Linked DNA regions of Homo sapiens. The protein of the gene in region 2 purifies or fractionates together with the protein of the main gene of each other region. This does not show direct contact. Each region holds a gene or a part of one and is shown on either strand. Other genes may lie near its edges.

The links. The genes of interacting proteins can lie anywhere in the genome.
Region 1: the proteins of MX1 (region 2) and BCS1L purify together in Homo sapiens (affinity purification with mass spectrometry; 2 studies listed by BioGRID and IntAct, with this or other methods). This does not show direct contact.

The regions. Positions count from the first base shown.
Region 1 is NC_000002.12:218,657,769-218,661,514, forward strand, and holds the start of BCS1L (mitochondrial chaperone BCS1), read left to right. Parts: upstream 1-1,914; 5' UTR 1,915-1,975; exon of another isoform or gene 1,976-3,170; 5' UTR 3,171-3,219; coding exon 3,220-3,539; intron 3,540-3,637; coding exon 3,638-3,746. UniProt on the Homo sapiens protein: Chaperone necessary for the incorporation of Rieske iron-sulfur protein UQCRFS1 into the mitochondrial respiratory chain complex III.
Region 2 is NC_000021.9:41,424,411-41,428,156, forward strand, and holds the start of MX1 (interferon-induced GTP-binding protein Mx1), read left to right. Parts: upstream 1-1,828; 5' UTR 1,829-1,853; exon of another isoform or gene 1,854-2,136; intron 2,137-2,795; 5' UTR 2,796-2,894; intron 2,895-3,344; 5' UTR 3,345-3,456; intron 3,457-3,746.

The sequences.
Region 1 (3,746 bases), on a different chromosome or scaffold from region 2:
TAAGGGCACTCTGTACACAGCCCTATCAGAAACGAGGTCACACTGCACTGTTGTTTACCTGTCAGTCTCTCTCCCTAGATGTATAGCTTTTTTAGTAATTTGTTGACATTATCACTTCAATGATATTACTTTGTGATACTGACATTATCACTTCAACGAACACAAATCACCCACAATCGAAGATTCCAGTGAAGAACCACAGATATGGAGCTGCATTGGAGTAAAGCTAGGTATCTTGTACAAAACCAGTGGTTCCTCACCTATAACGTAACACATTTGGAGAAATTTCAAACTCATTAACTGACTATGGCCTCAAACTAAATATGGGAACATAACTGAGGAATGAATGACAATTGAATTGCATACCCTGTTATACATGGCTAAAATGAGTTTAAGCTGAATAATTAGTAATTAATAAGAATGATGGGAATCACTTCATGAAATTGAGTCACAGACAAGATGCAAAAAGAAAAAAAGAAGAAGAAACCAGGCCGGGCGCGGTGGCTCAGGCCTGTAATCCCAGCACTTTGGGAGGCCAAGGCGGGCCGATCACCTGAGGTCAGAAGTTCGAGACCAGCCTGGCGAACATTGTGAAACCCTGTTTCTACTAAAAATACAAAAAATCAGCAGGGTGTGGTGGCACACGCCTGTAATCCCAGCTACTCGGGAGGCTGAGGCAGGAGAATCGCTGGAACCCGGGAGGCGGAGGTTGCAGTGAGCCGAGATCGCACCATTGCACCCCAGCTTGGGCAACAAGAGCGAAACTCCGTCTCAAAAAAAAAACAAACAAAAACCAAGATCCTGCAATCTGATAGTCCCTATTTCCAGAATCCCATGGACTCAAAACAACAGATCACAGGGATTCACAAGGTGGCTGGAAAGTGCACTCCCGTGGTCAGAGGGATTCTCTGGAAACTGCAGCCTCCACTTACTGAATATTATCGCTGTTCTGGGGAATCTTCAAGCTTGACCATACATGGCCTCCGGGGGGAGCCAAGGAGGACGCTGAGCCGTCAAGATTAAGAACCTTCACCTGCGGGAGGGCAGGGTGAGGTAGGAGACAGGTGGGCACCAGAGAAGAAATACGCTTATCTTCCGGGCAGGAGGGCTGAGGAAGAGAAAGGACAGACTAAGGCAGAGAGAAGGCCTGGAGAAACAACGGGCCCCGGCCTAGCGACCCAGGTTCCCACCTGCCTCTGGCTCTGACTCACCGCGTGGTCTTGGACAGACACAGTCGCTTCGCTTCTCTGGGCCTCAGCTTTCCTATCTGTAAAATGGAGGTGATGACAGTGTCCACATCGTCGGGCAGGAGCTGGATCATAAGAGCCAGCGAACTGGAAAGGCGGTTTGTAACCTGGAAGGCTTGGGATGGAGCATCGTCATGATTTTGTCCTGAGAGCAGCAGGTACCCGGGCGGGGTCCAGAACCGTGACGCGACTGCAGCGCCGGGGCCCAGCTCGTCTGGGTGCTCCCTTCAGTACCTCCTTCCGAGAGTTCCCAGCGCCCAGGCCCACCCTGATCCCGGGGCTCGAAAAACTTTGCCTCCAGCTCGCTCCACCCGCATTCCCTTCCCAGTTCCGCCCCGCAGCCGCTCACTCACCTCCAGACCCAGAGCCGGCGGGAGCCGCATCTCTATGGTCGGCCGCGGCTGGAACGGCCCCCGGGGCCCGCTTTGTGCGACCGCCTCCGGCTCAGCCGCCTCTAGGATATTGGGGATGTGGAAGCCACTCTCTCTTCCTCTTGCCGGCTGCCGGGGTACTCTATGTTTTGTCTCTGTGGTTTTTCCCGCCCTCCACCCCCACTCCAGCCCTGAAGCCGGAGAAGCACCATCGAGAGCTCTGGGGTAGAGTGGCGTGGGCTTCTCTGTGGGTGTGGCGGGAAGTAGATGAAAGGACCCGGGGCGGGGCCGAACGCAGCTTCCCCAAGGTGCAGGCGCGGTGAAACCATCGAGACGGAGGGCCAGAGAGTCACGGCGGTGAGAGGGCTGAGTGACGGGTTACCCCAAACCATGTGGCTGGAGGCGCGAGCTGGGGTGTGGGCGAGGTTCAGGAGGGGGTTCCTGGGTGTCGCGGAGGGGCCGGGGACGGGAGAGCTTTGTCTGTGGCCTTCCATGCATAGGTGTTTTGGAATTCTGGATCCCAGTTCTGAGGCTCAGCCGAGGTCACTGCTGTCAGCTCACCTCCCTGCATGCCAGGCGCAGGGCAAAGTGGCCGGGGTTCGGGGTTGGAGGAGAGGTGTACTAGAAACAACTTTGCTCTTGTCCCTCAGGATCTTATTGTCTACGATGTGACGATCCGTGGAGAAAGTAGCAGATGGGCAGATTTTCATTTGGGGAGAATGAGGGAGAAAAGAACGGGCATTCCGAGCCAAGAGCACTGCATGAGCAAGGAGTTGGGAGGTTGCTTACTTGTTGAACATATTTGTTGCGTATTTGCATATTTGCTAAACAGGTAGTGTTAGGAGCTAATCCATGAAAGGTAGGTGGGCGCCGTATTGTAGAGAGCCTTGAGTACCAGGCTGAGTTTATACCCAATTCAGGGGTCTGCTGGGAGCCAGCCATTGAAGGTGCTGGAGCAGAGAGAGATATGGTATTGGAGCTGATCCCTATGATGAAAGATCTGGACCCTTGTGTAGATGTTCCGTGAAGCAGGAGGTGAAGACCTATTAAAATGCCATTTCAAGAACTACGATTTTAAAGACAGTTTAGGTGGGAGGTAATAAAGGTCTAAACAAGACGTTAAATATTGGGGACGTAAGGGGGAGGATATTTGAAGGACATTACTCATAACAAGACATAGGGTTACTGACAAGTCAACGGACGCTTCTCCCTTGCTGACTGCAGCCAATGGACCCCTTTTTATCATAGCTGGTCCCAGGGACCACAAAAATCCTGTCCATCCATTACCCTGATGTGAAGCCTGTTTATATAGCTCTTTTTGGTTTAAGGCATCTCCAGACATGGTCCTCTGGTAGGAAACAGGTATGAGTAGACTAATGAAGGACAAAATGGGATGAGGGACCTGGAGCCTCCACCCTTGCATTCCAATACCACCCTTACCCCACAAAAGGAGGGTATTGACCCACACAGTAATGCTGACCTGTGGCCAGGGCTGGGGAGGTCCAATTTCTAATCTGTGCTTTGTCCCATCTCCACTGTTCCCCACCCCTAGGTTTTCGTAACACCCCAGGGCCTGTAAGGTTTGGTGTTTCCCTTTCAAGATGCCACTTTCAGACTTTATTCTGGCTCTGAAGGACAATCCCTACTTTGGGGCTGGATTTGGGCTGGTGGGTGTGGGCACAGCCCTGGCCCTGGCCCGGAAGGGTGTCCAACTGGGCCTGGTGGCATTCCGGCGCCATTACATGATCACACTGGAAGTCCCTGCTCGAGACAGGAGCTATGCCTGGTTGCTTAGCTGGCTCACCCGCCACAGTACCCGTACTCAGCACCTCAGTGTCGAGACTTCGTACCTTCAGCATGAGAGTGGCCGCATTTCCACTAAGTTTGAATTTGTCCCCAGCCCTGGAAACCATTTTATCTGGTAAGGTGGGGAGCTAGGGAGGGCTGTGAGAGTAGAAAAGAATGATGGGAGCTGGGTTTGACCCATTCACTCACTCAGTTTTGATCGTTCTTATTCAGGTATCGGGGGAAATGGATTCGGGTAGAACGAAGTCGAGAGATGCAGATGATAGACTTGCAGACGGGGACTCCTTGGGAATCTGTCACCTTCACGGCCCTGGGCACTGAC
Region 2 (3,746 bases):
GGCTCCTCCCCCTCTTGTAGGTGCAGCAGTATTGAATTTGATTCCATCCAGGTTTCCCCTGACCCCAGGACCTAAAGCTGGGGCAGGTTCTGGGCCTTGAGGTTGGTTGGGGGTGACCCTTCCTAATCATGGAAGTCTTTAGCGGGGGCTTGTAAGGGACTGTGAGCTGAGCTAAGGAGAATGGAGGTGGGGTGCCAACCGCTCCCAAAGGGAAATGCCATCTCCCACTCACAGCCAGTTAGCCGAGAATGGGAGCTCCCAAAGGGAGGACCACCCATGGGTCTGCTTGACTCAGCCCTCCCCAACCCCTTTCACCTTTGCAGTAAAACTCTAGCCAAGGAAGACAAAGAGACCTTTGGAGACCAAAACAGAACTTTTAATTCGGGCCAACAGCAGGCTCATGCCCAAAATGGCTGCCAACCCCAACAAAGAAAGCAGCTAGCTTATATGTCGTTTGAGATGGGAAAAACAAGGTAGGATACAGGTTTCAGACAAAGACAGTAAATTACTTAACCCGTGACAATTCTGAGGAAACTGGCAATTCAGTTATATTGACTAGTCATCCTCCAAGCTGGACTAGGGTTGGAGGCTGGGGTCCCGAGGCAGGTGATAAGCTTTTGAGATAAGCTTGCATCTGCAACTTGTTACAATGCTGGGAGGGGCTGCTTAAAATTTTAGCCTATGTGTTACTTCTAAATAGCTTATACTAAATGTTAACTGTTTTCATGTGCGTCCATGTGAAGAGACCACCAAACAGGCTTTGTGTGAGCAACATGGCTGTGTATTTCACCTGGGTGCAGGCGGGCTGAGTCCGAAAAGAGAGTCAGCGAAGGGAGATAGGGGTGGGGCCGTTTTATAGGATTTGGGAAGGTAATGGAAAATTACAGTCAAAGGGGGTTGTTCTCTGGTGGGCAGGGGTGAATCTCACAAAGTACATTCTCAAGGGTGGGGAGAATTACAAATAACCTTCTTAAGGGTGGGGAAGATTACAAAGTACATTGATCAGTTAGGGTGGGGCAGGAACAAATCACAATGGTGGAATGTCATCAGTTAAGGCTGTTTTTACTTCTTTTGTGGATCTTCAGTTACTTTAGGCCATCTGGATGTATACCTGCAAGTCACAGGGGATGCGATGGCCTGGCCTGGGATGCGATGGCCTGGCCTGACAACTATTACCTATGTTATGTTTATTATTTTAAGCTTTATTATTACTATTTTATTTATTTTATTTTATTTTCCTTCCACACACCCGTTTCCACCCTGGAGAGGCCAGATGAGCCAGACTCCAGGGAGGCCTAGAAGTGGGCAAGGGGAAACGGGAAAGGAGGAAGATGGTATGGGTGTGCCTGGTTAGGGGTGGGAGTGCTGGACGGAGTTCGGGACAAGAGGGGCTCTGCAGCCATTGGCACACAATGCCTGGGAGTCCCTGCTGGTGCTGGGATCATCCCAGTGAGCCCTGGGAGGGAACTGAAGACCCCCAATTACCAATGCATCTGTTTTCAAAACCGACGGGGGGAAGGACATGCCTAGGTTCAAGGATACGTGCAGGCTTGGATGACTCCGGGCCATTAGGGAGCCTCCGGAGCACCTTGATCCTCAGACGGGCCTGATGAAACGAGCATCTGATTCAGCAGGCCTGGGTTCGGGCCCGAGAACCTGCGTCTCCCGCGAGTTCCCGCGAGGCAAGTGCTGCAGGTGCGGGGCCAGGAGCTAGGTTTCGTTTCTGCGCCCGGAGCCGCCCTCAGCACAGGGTCTGTGAGTTTCATTTCTTCGCGGCGCGGGGCGGGGCTGGGCGCGGGGTGAAAGAGGCGAAGCGAGAGCGGAGGCCGCACTCCAGCACTGCGCAGGGACCGGTGAGTGTCGCTTCTGGGGGCAGCGCCCAGTAACCGCGCTAGGAGCGCGGAGAAGGGCATTGGGAGAGCGGCGTTCGTGGCGGAGACTAGCGCTCCGGAGCACGGGCACGACGGGGGCACCTTCTCGGCTGCTAGTAACTAACAATAATAATAATCATAATCATAGCAAGGGCGCTGATGGGCGGGCTCGGAGCACGCCTGATTCTGGTTCCCACCAGGCTGCCCAGGCTCCTGATGACGCATCAGAAACATCCCCCTAACCCGCGGCCTTCCTGCAGGAGAGGTTGGGAAGGGGTGGGGGACGGGGCTCGGGGGAGGTCTCCGAGGGACTCTAGTAAGCGGGGAAGGGCGCCGGGAAAGTTTCAGATCCACGGCTGCGCGGGCCACGAGCCCACCCGAACGCCGACCACTGCTTTCCGTCGACTTCTATTTCCTGGGAACGCGCGAAAGCAAACCCAAGTCAGACTGCGGAGGTCGCTGGGGAGGGAAGGTTCAAGGAGTTCTCGCCGATCCTGCTGAATAAAGGGGGTTCCGAGCTGGGCCGAGATGGGGCATGCGCGGGAAGACCCCTGCCCGCTGTTCCCCCCCACCGCCCCAGTGGATGCCATGCCTGGGGCCTCCCCGGCGCGTGGGGCTGACGCACCCTCGGGGTCCATCGTAGTTGGCCGGGATCGTGGAGTGGGTGCGGTGGACGAAGGGAGGCAGGACAGTCCCGGGGGTGGCAGAAGGAGCCCGGGCACAGCTGAGACCTGCGCTCCCATCCCACCAACACTCACAGCAGGTGCTGCCGAGCTGGGCAATTGGGATGGCCCAAGTTATTTGGTTAAATTTTAAATCACGTTTGTTACTGGGAAGTAGAGTCCAGTGATGCTAACCGCGCCTCTACCTCCACCACCGGTGTCAGTCCCAAAGGGCTCCTAAAATGGCTGTGTCATCTTTCAGCCTTGGACCGCAGTTGCCGGCCAGGAATCCCAGTGTCACGGTGGACACGCCTCCCTCGCGCCCTTGCCGCCCACCTGCTCACCCAGCTCAGGGGCTTTGGTAGGTAGCAGTGCATTTGGTCTAAAGGGCAAGATGTTCTCTCTTTTATTCATAACAAATTTAAATACCAGCAGGGTTTGGGGGGAAAAACGCTTTCAGAAGAAAAGGTGAATGTCAGTCCTGCAAGAGTTAGTTTTAAAACTAGACTGAATTGGCACATGTATACCTATGTAACAAACCTGCACGTTCTGCACATGTACCCCAGAACTTAAAAGCTTATAAAAAAAGAAAAAACTAGACTGGATTATGTTGGGAAAGTGTAGCCTCTTCCATCTTAGGCATTTCCTAGAACGTAGGCAGTAGGTGGTCCTTATTAGGAGTTTTGGGAGAGGAAGGGGGCTGAATCCTACCTCCCATCCCTGCTCCTCTATGGGGTCTGAGCTGAGGAAGCTTCACCACAAGGAGAGAACCCCCTGACAACCCTGGATGCCACCTTTACCCTCACTGCAGGAATTCTGTGGCCACACTGCGAGGAGATCGGTTCTGGGTCGGAGGCTACAGGAAGACTCCCACTCCCTGAAATCTGGAGTGAAGAACGCCGCCATCCAGCCACCATTCCAAGGTAAGGCAGAAATGAAGTGGGCCGTTGGGTTCTTTCTTTTCTTTCTTTCTTTTTTTTGAGACAAGGTCTCACTCTGTCGCCCAGGCTGGAGTGCAGTGGCGCCATCTCAGCTCACTGCAACCCCCGCCTCCCAGGTTCAAGCGATTCTGGTGCCTCAGTCTCCTGAGTAGCTGGGATTACAGGCACACATCACCACACCTGGCTAATTTGTATGTGTTTAGTAGAGACAGCATTTCACCATATTGGCCAGGCTGGTTTCAAACTCCTGGCCTCAAATGATCCACCCGCCT